Linked DNA regions of Homo sapiens. The protein of the gene in region 2 purifies or fractionates together with the protein of the main gene of each other region. This does not show direct contact. Each region holds a gene or a part of one and is shown on either strand. Other genes may lie near its edges.

The links. Proteins that work in one complex are often made in the same cells at the same time.
Region 1: the proteins of CIC (region 2) and GMPS purify together in Homo sapiens (affinity purification with mass spectrometry, with the first as the bait; one large-scale study listed by BioGRID). This does not show direct contact.
Region 3: the proteins of CIC (region 2) and CTCF purify together in Homo sapiens (affinity purification with mass spectrometry, with the first as the bait; one large-scale study listed by BioGRID). This does not show direct contact.
Region 4: the proteins of CIC (region 2) and NFIX purify together in Homo sapiens (affinity purification with mass spectrometry; 2 studies listed by BioGRID). This does not show direct contact.

The regions. Positions count from the first base shown.
Region 1 is NC_000003.12:155,940,150-155,943,649, reverse strand, and holds part of GMPS (GMP synthase [glutamine-hydrolyzing]), read right to left. Parts: 3' UTR 1-3,500. UniProt on the Homo sapiens protein: Catalyzes the conversion of xanthine monophosphate (XMP) to GMP in the presence of glutamine and ATP through an adenyl-XMP intermediate.
Region 2 is NC_000019.10:42,289,752-42,293,251, forward strand, and holds part of CIC (protein capicua homolog), read left to right. Parts: intron 1-96; coding exon 97-200; intron 201-481; coding exon 482-1,715; intron 1,716-1,806; coding exon 1,807-1,994; intron 1,995-2,334; coding exon 2,335-2,456; intron 2,457-2,548; coding exon 2,549-2,715; intron 2,716-2,814; coding exon 2,815-3,108; intron 3,109-3,204; coding exon 3,205-3,500. UniProt on the Homo sapiens protein: Transcriptional repressor which plays a role in development of the central nervous system (CNS). In concert with ATXN1 and ATXN1L, involved in brain development.
Region 3 is NC_000016.10:67,611,026-67,614,525, forward strand, and holds part of CTCF (transcriptional repressor CTCF), read left to right. Parts: coding exon 1-588; intron 589-925; coding exon 926-1,096; intron 1,097-3,500.
Region 4 is NC_000019.10:13,075,475-13,078,974, forward strand, and holds part of NFIX (nuclear factor 1 X-type), read left to right. Parts: intron 1-60; coding exon 61-197; intron 198-3,138; coding exon 3,139-3,261; intron 3,262-3,500.

The DNA of each region.
Region 1 (3,500 bases), on a different chromosome or scaffold from region 2:
ACATTGTTACAACACAAAATAGACATTGCAGTTTACAATTAACAATTACACAGTGATTTCATAACAATACTACTTACTCCAATTAACAAAATATTTCTTTATAAAAAATATGTTCAAAAGGAGGTTTACATTCACTTCTTCGTTTAATATCAAGGTTGTTAACAATGGTCTTAGGAGATGCAAAGACGAAAAACTACTTACCTTAAAAATCTGTATTCTTGAAGATATATACTCCACTTGAATAAGATACTGCTCAAGGTTTAGGCTTCCTGGAGAACTCAGAGGATTTTGTAGTTGTACTTAATATACTCAATAGCCAAATTTCCTAAACTTTCATAATTTTGCTAACCAAGGGCCCTTAACAAAGTTAAAAGACACCACAGGGTTCAAAAGTGAACAAATATGTTGTTTTTGTTTTAAGACGGAGTCTCATTCTTGTCACCTAGGCTGGAGTGCAGTGGCGCAATCTCTGCTCACTGCAACCTCCATCTCCCGGGTTTAAGTGATTCTCACACCTCAGCCTTCCGAGTAGCTGGGATTACAGGCGCGCGCCACCAAGCCCAGCTAATTTTTACATTTTTAGTAGAAATGGGGTTTCACCATGTTGGCCACGCTGGTCTCAAACTCCTGACCTCAAGAGATCCGCCCGCCTCGGCCTCCCAAAGTGCTGGGATTACAGGCATGCGCCACTGTGCCTGGTCACAAATATGTTAATGAGCCAATTAAGATGGTGCTGCTCAAATGATTCTAATTCAGGAAACTTAGGTTGCAGCTAGGTAATCTCTAGTTCTCTAAAGAATAATACCCAAATGACAGGATTTATGTGTTGATGCAATAATAGCTCAGTCTGTTTCATGACCTAGCTAGAGTCAGAATTGGAGCGGTGGCTATAGCACAGGGGTGGCTTTCTCCTCTCTGAAGGAAAAGTAAAGAAGTAAGAAGAAAGAGGTTGAAAGAACAGCCTACACAGTTGTTGCCCAGATCTCAAAATTAGCAACAAGTATGTCAGCTGTCCTAATTATTACCAAACAGGTCCTGGGAGTGTCTGACACACAACATAATATAGGTGCAATCAGTTCCAGAATCTGGTTCCTGGATCTGAACTAATTTAGCTATAAGACCTTCAGCAAGACCATCTCTATGGCCTGCATCTCTCTCCTATAGGTTTGACAAAGATTCACCTATGAGTTTGATGAAGACAGGCTAGGTATGGCCCTCAATAAGAATTTATTCTGACTGGGAGATTTAAAACTGTAAATGCTTGCCGGGCGTGGTGGCTCACGCCTGTAATCCCAGCACTCTGAGAGGCCGAGGCGGGCGGATCATGAGGTCGGGAGATCGAGACCATCCTGTATAACACAGTGAAACCCTGTCTCTACTAAAAAGTACAAAAAAATTAGCCGGGCGTAGTGGCGGGCGCCTGTAGTCCCAGCTACTCGGGAGACTGAGGCAGGAGAATGGCGTGAACCCACGAAGCGGAGCTTGCAGTGAGCCGAGATTGTGCCACTGCACTTGGGGACAGAGCGAGACTCTGTCTTAAAAAAAAAACAAAACAAAACTGTAAATGCTTGAGTTCTACCTCCTCCAGATTCTAATTTTATTTAATTGGACATCTGGTTATTGTATTTTTTAACTCCTCAGGTTATGTAATAATACGCATCCAGTGTTGAGGAACACTGACAAAAAGGTTAGAGTTCAGTGAGACACTGAGGCCTCTTCAGTACATAAAAATAGGGTTGGAAGTTAGCATCTTGACACTCTTTGGGGGATTCTATATCTCTTCACTTGCCATTAAGTGAAACGTTCAGAAATTTAAGAGTCAACAATGCCACCATTACTGCTGTCAAAGTCCTTCAGTGATTAAAAAGATACCAGAAAGATACCCTGATCCCTTGATCATCTGGTGGTGTTAAACTACTTCAGTAAGAACAAAAGATGTGCTTTCCAAGGGTGGAGACATCCAACTTGTATTCAGTTCCCCATTACATTCTGGATTTGGGTCAATGAAAGAAGCATCCATTGGGGTGATAGCTAAGGCGTGTCCTCGCCACATATCAATGAGATTTCTGGAGGGGAGTAGTGTGGGAAAGTGGTTATAACATTGCGCAAGCAGATGTCAGAGAATTTCTGAAAGACAGGGCTATCTCTAGAAACTCACTGTAAGTAAGGAGACAATTAACACTTTTGAAGCCCATTTATCCCTGATGGTCAATTACACACTAAGAACTTCCTTTTTTTTTTTTTTTTGAGACTGAGTCTCGCTCTTTCACCAGGCCGGAGTGCAGTGGCACTATCTCAGCTCACTGCAAGCTCCGCCTCCTGGGTTCAGGCCATTCTCCTGCCTCAGCCTCCCGAGTAGCTGGGACTACAGGCACCCGCCACCGCGCCCAGCTAATTTGTTGTATTTTTAGTAGAGATGGGGTTTCACCGTGTTAGCCAAGATGGTCTCGATCTCCTGATCTCGTGATCCACCCACCTCGGCCTCCCAAAGTGCTGGGATTACAGGCATGAGCCACCGCGCCCGGCCAAGAACTTCCTTTTAAGATTTGCCCTGAAGGGCCCTAGAGCATTTCCTCTTCCATGCAGAGAATCAGAAAGCTTGGATTCTAGCTCTAGCTCCCAACAATTAGCTGTATGTAATTGATGATGGGTGACTTCATTAGTGTCAAAGCCAAAGCATATTCTCTGTCAGCTTTTCAAAAAAACACGCAGTAAAGAGAGATTCCTACCAGGAAAACTTTGATGGGTGTTTTTCAAGTGTCATCTCACAGCAGAAGATGCCCCAAGTGGTCAAACCTTGCCAACAGCTTCAAAAAAAGGTAACTAGGATTTAACTTTACGGTGCATTTTGATGTTTCCCTTTGTGTCATATCTGATGATAAAAGAACCTTAAAAAAAAAAAAAAAAAACACTATCCAGCTTCTCCATTCTGTCTCCTGCTTTACTTTCTCTTGTTTACAAAATACAAATTTATAGCTGGATTTGATGCTGAAAATTTAATACAGTTACCTCATGTCACAGATAAAGAACAGAAATGACTTGACCAAGTTCACATTGTTGTTTAACGGCAGGAAAAGCACTAAAGATGGATAGTCCTGCCTTCCTAATTTGAATGCTCTTATTCTCTACAGGTTAGGGTCAAGTTATTCAGTAAAACAGGCTATCAGGAGGTTAAGCCCAAACAGTGAGGAAACAAATTTTATGATGCTTGTTTGACTAAATGCATGCAGTTTACCTCAAGATTAAGGGATTTAAAAAAGGTTAGAAAACAGTGTAACCCTATCTCCTGGATATATCTACAGACTTGTATTTAGGAATTATGCCAGGCTGTTATTTCTAACAGAGCTGATGATCATAGATGTGGCCTTTAAGGCAGGACTGGGTATTTGGTTCTTAAAAATGATTCTGTGCCTGCCAATCTTAGGAATAAATAATGCTTTCAATGATCTACATTCTCTGTCTACCTAAAAAGTACAAAGAAAAAGAATATATTTAATCAA
Region 2 (3,500 bases):
GGTTTGGAGCAGAGCTGAGATCCAGGCTCCAGACTGTTTCTCCTGGGTCCCCCTGCATCTAGCCCCCTCCCCATACTGTTCCCTCCACTCCCTCAGCTGACGATGGCTTCGGCACCACTGACATTGATCTCAAGTGCAAGGAGCGGGTGACCGACAGCGAGAGTGGGGACAGCTCTGGGGAGGACCCAGAGGGCAACAAGGTGAGGGCTTGGGTCACGGTGCTGTCCCATCACACTCCCTCCTAAGCCATGGGAATGTCTGTTTCTCCCGGGCTTGAGAGAGGGGGAGATTAAGGTCCAGAGAGGGCAAGCTGCTTGCCCCGTGGGGAGTTGGGTCATAGTCAGGATGAATTGAGGCCTTCAGCTGGCAGGGGTGCAGCCCTAGGCTGGCCTGGCTGACAGGCTGGATGGGCATGGCTAGGGGGCTGCTATCGAGGTGTCGGAGTGTCCTGACCTGGGGTGTCTCCCTTCCTTTCATGCAGGGCTTTGGTCGGAAGGTGTTTTCACCTGTGATCCGTTCCTCCTTTACCCACTGCCGCCCCCCACTGGACCCTGAGCCCCCAGGGCCCCCGGATCCTCCTGTAGCCTTTGGCAAAGGCTATGGTTCCGCCCCATCCTCCTCTGCGTCCTCGCCTGCTTCCTCCTCAGCCTCGGCAGCCACCTCCTTCTCACTGGGCTCAGGAACCTTCAAGGCCCAGGAGTCTGGTCAGGGCAGCACAGCGGGCCCCCTACGGCCCCCACCCCCTGGGGCTGGGGGTCCAGCGACACCTTCCAAGGCAACCCGGTTCCTCCCAATGGATCCTGCCACCTTCCGGCGCAAGAGACCCGAAAGTGTGGGTGGCCTGGAGCCACCAGGCCCCTCAGTCATCGCGGCCCCTCCCAGCGGAGGAGGAAACATCCTGCAGACACTGGTGCTGCCCCCAAACAAGGAGGAGCAAGAGGGCGGCGGAGCCAGAGTGCCCTCCGCCCCCGCCCCATCACTGGCCTATGGGGCCCCAGCAGCTCCCCTGTCCCGTCCTGCCGCCACCATGGTCACCAATGTGGTGCGGCCTGTCAGCAGCACTCCTGTGCCCATCGCCTCTAAGCCCTTCCCCACCTCTGGCCGGGCTGAGGCGTCTCCAAATGACACAGCAGGTGCCAGGACTGAAATGGGCACTGGGTCTCGGGTGCCTGGGGGCTCCCCGCTGGGTGTCAGCTTAGTGTATTCGGACAAGAAGTCGGCAGCAGCCACCTCACCAGCCCCACACTTGGTGGCTGGACCCCTGCTGGGCACTGTGGGGAAGGCGCCTGCCACTGTCACTAACCTACTGGTGGGCACCCCGGGGTATGGGGCCCCTGCGCCCCCTGCTGTCCAGTTCATTGCCCAGGGGGCCCCTGGTGGTGGGACCACTGCGGGCTCAGGAGCAGGTGCTGGGAGTGGCCCCAATGGGCCAGTACCCCTGGGCATCCTGCAACCAGGTGCCCTGGGCAAGGCTGGGGGAATCACCCAGGTACAGTACATCCTGCCCACGCTGCCCCAGCAGCTTCAGGTGGCACCTGCCCCAGCACCAGCCCCTGGGACCAAGGCAGCGGCTCCCAGCGGCCCTGCACCCACCACCAGCATCCGTTTCACCCTCCCACCGGGCACTTCCACCAACGGCAAAGTCCTGGCTGCCACTGCACCCACTCCTGGCATCCCCATCCTGCAGTCTGTACCCTCCGCCCCACCCCCCAAAGGTGAGACCTGGGCCGGGCAGCACTAGGGGAGGGGCCATAGTCCTGTTTGGCTCCCTTGTAACCTTTTCCTTTCTTGCCTCTTAACTTCCAGCCCAGTCAGTTTCTCCCGTGCAGGCCCCGCCCCCGGGTGGCTCAGCCCAGCTGCTGCCTGGGAAGGTCCTAGTGCCTCTGGCCGCCCCTAGCATGTCAGTGCGGGGTGGAGGGGCCGGCCAGCCACTGCCACTGGTGAGCCCGCCCTTCTCAGTACCTGTGCAGAATGGTGCCCAGCCCCCCAGCAAGGTGAGGGCCTGCCTTTCTCTCTACCTGCTGGATGTTGGCCCCTGTACCCCATCATTTCTTTGTCTTTTTTTTCAGTCTTTTCTCCTTCTCCATGTATCTGGTTCTCTGTCTTGCCATCTTCCGTGATGTCTCTGTGCATCCTGACTCTCTCAAGTCCTCAGTGTCTGTACCCTCCTCCTTCTCTGTGTCCCCACCTCTCACTGTCATCTTGCCCATCCTGTTCTCACCCCAAGTTCTGTGTTCCTTGCTTTTGCTTAGAGTCCCACTTGAGGTCTTGGTCTTCCCCTGCCCCAGTCTGGGGCCACAGCTCACCCTGGCCTATGGGTGCCCTTCTCCACAGATCATCCAGCTGACCCCGGTGCCTGTGAGCACACCCAGCGGCCTGGTGCCGCCCCTGAGCCCAGCCACACTCCCTGGACCCACCTCTCAGCCTCAGAAGGTCCTGTTGCCCTCCTCCACCAGGTAATTGCAGCTGAGCCCATACTCAGAGGCCAGGGAAGGGGTGGGGCGGGGCCGGCTTACCTCACTCCTCCCCATTTCCTCTCCTGCGGCAGAATCACCTATGTGCAGTCAGCGGGCGGGCACGCGCTGCCCCTGGGTACCAGCCCTGCGTCCAGCCAGGCTGGAACAGTCACCTCGTACGGGCCCACGAGCTCTGTAGCTCTAGGCTTCACCTCGCTGGGGCCCAGCGGCCCCGCCTTCGTGCAGCCCCTGCTCTCAGGTGAGGGGCGGCCTGGCAGGCAGTGCTGGGGACCCAGGGTGGGGCTGAGGCAGTCCGGGCCCTAACTTGGTCTCCTGCTTCTTCTTCTCTGTCTTTCAGCAGGCCAAGCCCCACTGCTGGCTCCCGGTCAGGTGGGCGTGTCACCTGTGCCCAGTCCCCAGCTGCCGCCTGCCTGTGCAGCCCCCGGAGGTCCTGTCATAACAGCATTTTACTCTGGCAGCCCTGCACCCACCTCCTCAGCACCCCTGGCCCAGCCATCCCAGGCCCCCCCAAGCCTGGTCTACACTGTGGCCACCAGCACAACCCCACCTGCAGCCACCATTCTGCCCAAGGGCCCGCCAGCCCCTGCCACTGCCACCCCAGCCCCGACTAGCCCTTTCCCCAGCGCCACAGGTAGGTGTCAGATCAACCCAGAGCAGAGTGAGTTGGGGGACCCAGGGGATGGGCTCCAGTCAGGCCTGGCTCAGCAAACAATTTTCTCCCCACTAGCAGGTTCCATGACCTACAGCTTAGTGGCCCCCAAGGCCCAGCGGCCCAGCCCGAAGGCCCCCCAGAAAGTGAAGGCAGCCATCGCCAGCATTCCCGTGGGGTCCTTTGAGGCAGGTGCCTCTGGGCGGCCTGGCCCTGCACCCCGGCAGCCTCTGGAGCCTGGCCCAGTCCGAGAGCCAACTGCCCCAGAGTCTGAGCTTGAGGGGCAGCCCACACCACCAGCCCCTCCACCCCTGCCAGAGACCTGGACTCCCACGGCCCGGAGCAGCCCCCCACTGCCCCCACCTGCTGAGGAG
Region 3 (3,500 bases), on a different chromosome or scaffold from region 2:
AGCTGGACCCCACCCTTCTTCAGATGAAGACTGAAGTAATGGAGGGCACAGTGGCTCCAGAAGCAGAGGCTGCTGTGGACGATACCCAGATTATAACTTTACAGGTTGTAAATATGGAGGAACAGCCCATAAACATAGGAGAACTTCAGCTTGTTCAAGTACCTGTTCCTGTGACTGTACCTGTTGCTACCACTTCAGTAGAAGAACTTCAGGGGGCTTATGAAAATGAAGTGTCTAAAGAGGGCCTTGCGGAAAGTGAACCCATGATATGCCACACCCTACCTTTGCCTGAAGGGTTTCAGGTGGTTAAAGTGGGGGCCAATGGAGAGGTGGAGACACTAGAACAAGGGGAACTTCCACCCCAGGAAGATCCTAGTTGGCAAAAAGACCCAGACTATCAGCCACCAGCCAAAAAAACAAAGAAAACCAAAAAGAGCAAACTGCGTTATACAGAGGAGGGCAAAGATGTAGATGTGTCTGTCTACGATTTTGAGGAAGAACAGCAGGAGGGTCTGCTATCAGAGGTTAATGCAGAGAAAGTGGTTGGTAATATGAAGCCTCCAAAGCCAACAAAAATTAAAAAGAAAGGTAAAACGAGTTTATCCATAGTGGTTTCATAAAACCATTTTGGGATAAGCATACAACACAGTGCATATGCAAGTTGTTTTATATTAACCGTATTTGTAAAAGGTCGTTATGTGGGTACCGTTCTTTAAAACCAGTCTAAAATAAGTTTTTTCCAGATTGAATGCTCTTTTTTTAATCCCAAAGAAGAAGGAAATGTATTAGTGACATGAGATAATTATGACTTATATTGGGTTTTGTTATTAAAAGCTAATCAAATATATTTGTAGAAATTTAAGATTAGGATTAATCTTAACACTTTGAAACTCTGCAGCAAGTAAGTGTTTTATTTTGCACATAGGTGTAAAGAAGACATTCCAGTGTGAGCTTTGCAGTTACACGTGTCCACGGCGTTCAAATTTGGATCGTCACATGAAAAGCCACACTGATGAGAGACCACACAAGTGCCATCTCTGTGGCAGGGCATTCAGAACAGTCACCCTCCTGAGGAATCACCTTAACACACACACAGGTGCTGGATAAGAATGTTGGGGGCTACAACAGCAAATGCTCAGACTTCGCTTTTTAGTATTCATTCAAGCTGACTCCAGCGGGAATTTAAAGGAAGTTTTTATTATTTCTTATGATGCCCTTTTTGTAATCATGATTTTATTGTAAGCACTTGGACTTAGTTATTATAGACAAATGTAAAGAAAATTTAATGAAAAATAACACCCTCTCTCTTAAAAAAAAGAAGTCTCAGGCAATAGATGCCTGGTACTATGAGGAAGAATGTTAGAAATAGAAGTGAAATCCCAGTGAAACCCTGTCTCTACTAAAAATACAAAAAATTAGCTGGGTGTGGTGGTGGGCGCCTGTAGTCCCAGCTACTCGGGAGGCTGAGGCAGGAGAATGGCGTGAACCCGGGAGGTGGAGCTTGCAGTTAGCCGAGATCCCACCACTGCACTCCAGCCTGGGCGACAGTGCGAGTCTCCGTCTAAAAAAAAAGAAAAGAAAAGAAATAGAAGTGAAATCCTACCTTTATTTAAAAAAAAAAAAGTGGCCGGGTACAGTGGCTCACGCCTGTAATCCTAACACTCTGGGAGGCTGAGGTGGGCAGATCACTTGAGATTAGAAGTTGGAGACCAGCCTGGCCAACGTGACAAAATCACATCCATCTGTACTAGAAATACATAAATTAGCCAGGTGTGGTGGCGGGTGCCTGTAATCCCAGCTACTCAGGAGGCTCAGGCAGGAGAATCGCTTGAAACCTGGGAGGCAGACACTGCAATGAGCTGAGATAGTGCTACTGCACTCCAGCCTGGGCGACAGAGTGAGACTCCATCTCAAAAACAAACCTTAACATTTTTTGTTTCTGGTTGTTTCACGTCAAGGAAGATAATTCATAATTTCAGAATGGAAAAGCTAAGGCACCATTCTGATAATTCAAACATTTATTTGAGCATCCTACTTACTTTAGTGTTCAGATATTCTGATATTAGCTTCATGTTGGCTGTGGCCAGGTTCCCTGAGGTCTCTAAAGTAGAGGGACTCTGTGCACTAAACCTCTCTTTAAGCTTTCCTGAGCTATTTGTTATCCCAGTGTAGGAAGTTGGTTGCAAGTCTTCTCACATGGTTTTTCATGCAGAATAACTTCATTTCATATGACAACTCTTGTTTTTGATTTTTAGGTTTTTAAAAATTTCTAATGACAACCCTTGTTTTAGATTTGTTGTGCTGGTTGTCAGATGACCATGATCAAGTGGGTGTTAATCATAAACAGTATGCTGCACATGGGCACATTCTTCACTAATGTGACTTACTTTTAAACATCTCCCTAATTTCTACTCAGACACTTGATAATATGTTTTATTTGATACTTTGAAGACACTAGGATGGGGCATATGACTAAATAAAAGTAACTGGGTAATCCCAGCACTTTGGAAATCCAATGGGGGGTAGATGACCTGAGGCCAGGAGTTCTAGACCAGCCCGGCCAACATGGCAAAACCGCCTCTGTACTGAAAATACAAAAAATCAGCTGGGTGTAGTGGCACACGCCTGTAAACCCAGCTACTTGGGTGGCTGAGGCAGGAGAATCACTTGAATGCGGGAGACAGAGGTTGCAGTAAGCCAAGATTGTGCCACCGTACTCCAACCTAAGTGACAGAGCAAGACTCTGCCTCACCAAAATAAATAAATAAATAAATAAATGGCCCCATAACAGGACTTCCCAAGATGGGTGTGCCTTGGTGTGGGCATTCTCTATCTGGTCTTCAGCTTTGAAAGTAAGAGGTACAGTCTATCTGGTTACTCAGCAGATTTGGCAAGACTGATTCATACCAACAAAACCCATAAGAGCAGATGCATACACCAAGAGTATCAGTTTATGGTGAGGAGTATACCTTTTCATGTTCCAGATGCAGTTGCATTGCATTCTAGGGGGCGCCTTTGCCTCTGTTACGATGCTGTAGCAGCCGGGCGCCGTAGCTCTCGCCTGTAATCCCATCACTTTGGGAGGCCGAGGTGGGTGGATCACCTGAGGTCAGGAGTTCAAGACCAGCCTGGCTAACATGACGAAACCTCGTCTCTACTAAAAATATAAAAATTAGCCGGGCGTGGTGACGCATGCCTGTAGTCCCAGCTACTCGGAAGGCTGAGGCAGGAGAATTGCTTAAATCCAGGAAGCAGAAATTGCAGTGAGTGGAGATCGCACCATTGCACTCCAGCCTGGGCGACAGAGTGAGACTCCATCTCAAAAAAAAAAAAAAAAAAAAAAGATGTTGTAGCAATTGAAAGCTAACTTGGTGAGGATGAGCCTTGATGGCTGGGCATGGTGGCTCACACCTGTAATCCCTGCACCTAGGGAGGCTGAGGCGGGTGGATCACTTGAGGTCAGGGGTTTGAGACCAGTCTGGCCAACATGATGAAACCTC
Region 4 (3,500 bases), about 29 Mb from region 2:
GGTCACTCCCTGGAGCCTCAGCCCATCCTTGGCCCATGTGACCCTTTCTTTCTTCCCCAGCACCACCAAGCGCCCCAAGTCCATCGATGACAGTGAGATGGAGAGCCCTGTTGATGACGTGTTCTATCCCGGGACAGGCCGTTCCCCAGCAGCTGGCAGCAGCCAGTCCAGCGGGTGGCCCAACGATGTGGATGCAGGTATGGGTGCGGGGGATCCTGACCCAGAGCAAGGGCAGCCCAGAGTCTTTTTGTCCCCTTCTCAGTTCACCTGGTGAGCCTCCCACCAGTTGTCCCCCTGTCGGGGGGCATTACCCATCTGTTTTCTTGCCTCCTGATCTTCCAGGGAGGGCAGAGCAGGCTGAAGGAAGGGAGTGGAGGTGAGGGTGAGGAGGGGTGCTGTGAGAGTCAGCAGCAGAGCCCGTGGTATGGCGGTGGGAAGCAGAGGGGGTGCCAAGCCTCTGGTGCCCCACAGTGGGATGGCCGCAGCCCCTCCTGGTATTTCTCTAGAGGTTGCCCCACCCCGTGGCCTCATGGTTGAAAGCAGTTTCTCACCCTGGGGGCTCATCATTCTGTGTAGGGGATTGTTCTGTGCATGGCAGGATGTTTAGCAGCATCCCTGGCCTCCACCTACAAGATGCCAGCAGCAAAACCCCCACCCCCAGTTTTGATGACCAAAAACGCCTCCAGACATTGTCAGACGTTCCCTAGTGGGATGGAATCCTCCCAGGATGAGAACCACTGGTCTCAAGGGCCCAGCTTCACAGAGAGAGGCTCAGAGTCTAGTGAAGAATGAGCAGAGTCCTTTTGAGACCAGGTAGGGAAGCTAGCGAAGGGGAGAGAGTACAGAGGAAGCCAGCTCAGACCTTCCCAGTCTCCTCTAGGGATCTTCTTCTTGTTGAACCCACCCCCCTTCACCTCCATTCTTGACTGAGGGTGCAGACAGACCTAGAGAGGACTCTGGAAGACAGCATGTAACACGTGCGTGTGTGTGTGTGCATGTGCATGAGCACATGTGTGTGAGGAGGCTGGCCGCAAGAGTCCCCCGCTGACGTGCCAGTGGTACAGCCCGTGTTTATCCTCACTGTGGGTGTGACAGGGCCTGGGAGTGCAGACTCACGCGTGTGGGTTGTGCACAGGGCATGGCTGCTCTGGACAGGCCTGGGCCCTGGGCATCATTCTCCTCCTCCAAAAGGTGAGGGTCTGACCTAATGGTACTTTGTCTGATGTTTTCCAGATATGCCCCTACTGGGAAGGGCCAAGTGGGCAGGCAGAGTCTGGGGTGGAGCGAGGTGGGGCTGGGAAGCACTCCTGCTTTTCTGCTGCCCCAGAACGAATGCAAGTTCTGGCAGCTTCTCCTCCTCCTGGGAGGAGGAAAGGAGGGCTCGCCTCCAGGCCTCAGGCTGAGGGAGTGGGCTGGAGACCCTCTAGATGGCCAGCAGAGGCTGGCCTCTGTGAGAAGGCTTCCTTGCGTGACTCTGGGGCCCCTCCCAGGCTCTCCTCGTGGCAGGCAGGGACTTGGGCCAGCATGGGCCACATGCTTCCCTAGGGGAGCCTTGAGAGGCAGAGAGAGGAGTTGAGAAGGCCCGGGAGACTCTTGGGCTACATCCTGGGTCCCTGGCCGGGGCCTCAGTAGGTGACCCCTTCTGCAAGGACTGCCCCTGGGGTGCATAGAGGACTGTGTCTGCAGCTGGCTCCTGGGGCAAGGGCTCCTGGGCTCCTGTGCCCAGACCTAATTCCTGAGGAGCCCCCCTCTTCCTGGCTCCTGCTCTCTCCTTTCTTGGCTGTCTGCTTTTGCGCCTGCCATTTCTGCATTTCTGCTCCTTCCGGCAGTCCTGCCACGCACGGCCCCTCAACATCCTCCTGCAGCACCCTCCGGCTCCCTTTTCCCCTCACCCCGCTGTGTGTTGTTTTCATGGGCTGCAACAAATTGCCAATTAAGCAGCCCAGCTGCAGGACAGGGAACAGCTGGGGAGGCACTGTGCGGCCATGGGGACAGCTGTGCACAGCTGGTAGGATGCTCCCCCCTCCCCACTGTGCCAGCTATCAGGTGGCACACAGCTGCTGCCAGATAACACCTCCGCTGGCGGCTGGGAGTTCGCCCTTCCCCCGCCCCTTCCCTCTGCAGTTAAGATGGCTCTTTATTTCTCTGTTCTGCAGCCCCTCCACCCCTCACCCAAACTGACTTGATTTGTCCTCCAAGGGTGGCAGCTGTGAGATCTGCCCCAACTCTACCTTATCCTTCCCAGCCTGGGCACAACCTTAAAGCTCAGCCCAAGATGGGAGCTGATCTTTCCAGAAGAACCTGGCCCCCTGGGGGCCCTGCTTTGTCATTTGGATGCTATGGCCACTGGGCAGAGATGAATTTCTAAAGACAGACTTCAAACAAGGTGTTCTCTGTGCCCTTGTTTCATGCTGAATGCCACCCACACCTCTGGCACCAGAAGCAGGGCAGAGCCCTGAAATTATCCATCCTATGGCAGCTGAGCTTCTGGGTCCCCTGGCTGGGGGAGTCTTCTCCCCTCTGGCTCTGCCTGCACAGCCCGGCTAGGCCTGAGCAGCCCAAGGACTCTCCAGGTCCTCTGGCCTCTGTCCCTGCTCTCTCGCTGGGCATTGTGTCCCTCCTGAGGGCTCATGGCTGTGTGCTCCCTTCCCTAAACGGGGCCCTGGCTTCTTCCCACCAGAACCTCCCATGGCCCCGGGCACCATGGCATAGACCCCAGCCTGTCCCTCCCAAACTTACCCCTTCCCGGCTCTCAAGCTGGCGCCCTGGGGTTCCTCCTGCACTCCTTTCCCAATGTTGGTCCTGCATCCCACCCTTTCACTTCATTACCTGCTTGCCAGGGCATAGGCTGGGGCCCTTGCTCACCCCCTGCCTGGCACACACCACCCCACATTACCCAGGGGCCTCGTTTTCCTCTCTGGTTAGAAGCACCCCTTGGCTGGCCTACACACAGGGCCTCGGAACCAGGCCTAGAACAAGGCCTGGGACTGGGCAAGGAGCAGCAGGAGGGAGCACAGTGGAGGAAGGGGCAGTGGGGAGGGGCTGAGGAGAGAAGGAGCGAGCTGCTGGCTTCCCGCCTTCCCCGCACCCACCCCAGCCCAGCTAAACCTGCCCTGTGTTGCTGCTTCCTCCCCCCAGGCCCGGCTTCTCTAAAGAAGTCAGGAAAGCTGGACTTCTGCAGTGCCCTCTCCTCTCAGGGCAGCTCCCCGCGCATGGCTTTCACCCACCACCCGCTGCCTGTGCTTGCTGGAGTCAGACCAGGTGAGAAATGGGGGGCCCCGGAGGGGGGCAGTTGGGGAGGTGGCTGAGTATCTAGGGGCAGCTGGCCAGGTGAAGGGGCCAGAGCTGACCCCGAGTGACAGCCCCACGCTCTCCAAGTGGGCCAAGGTGCAGCAGCGGGTGGGCATGGGAGCCGGCCCCTGCTTCACGTAGCACCTCATCGAGGACCAGGCCGGGCCCCTGGGCTGCCCACCTGGCTCCTGAGCAACCTCCCACTTCTC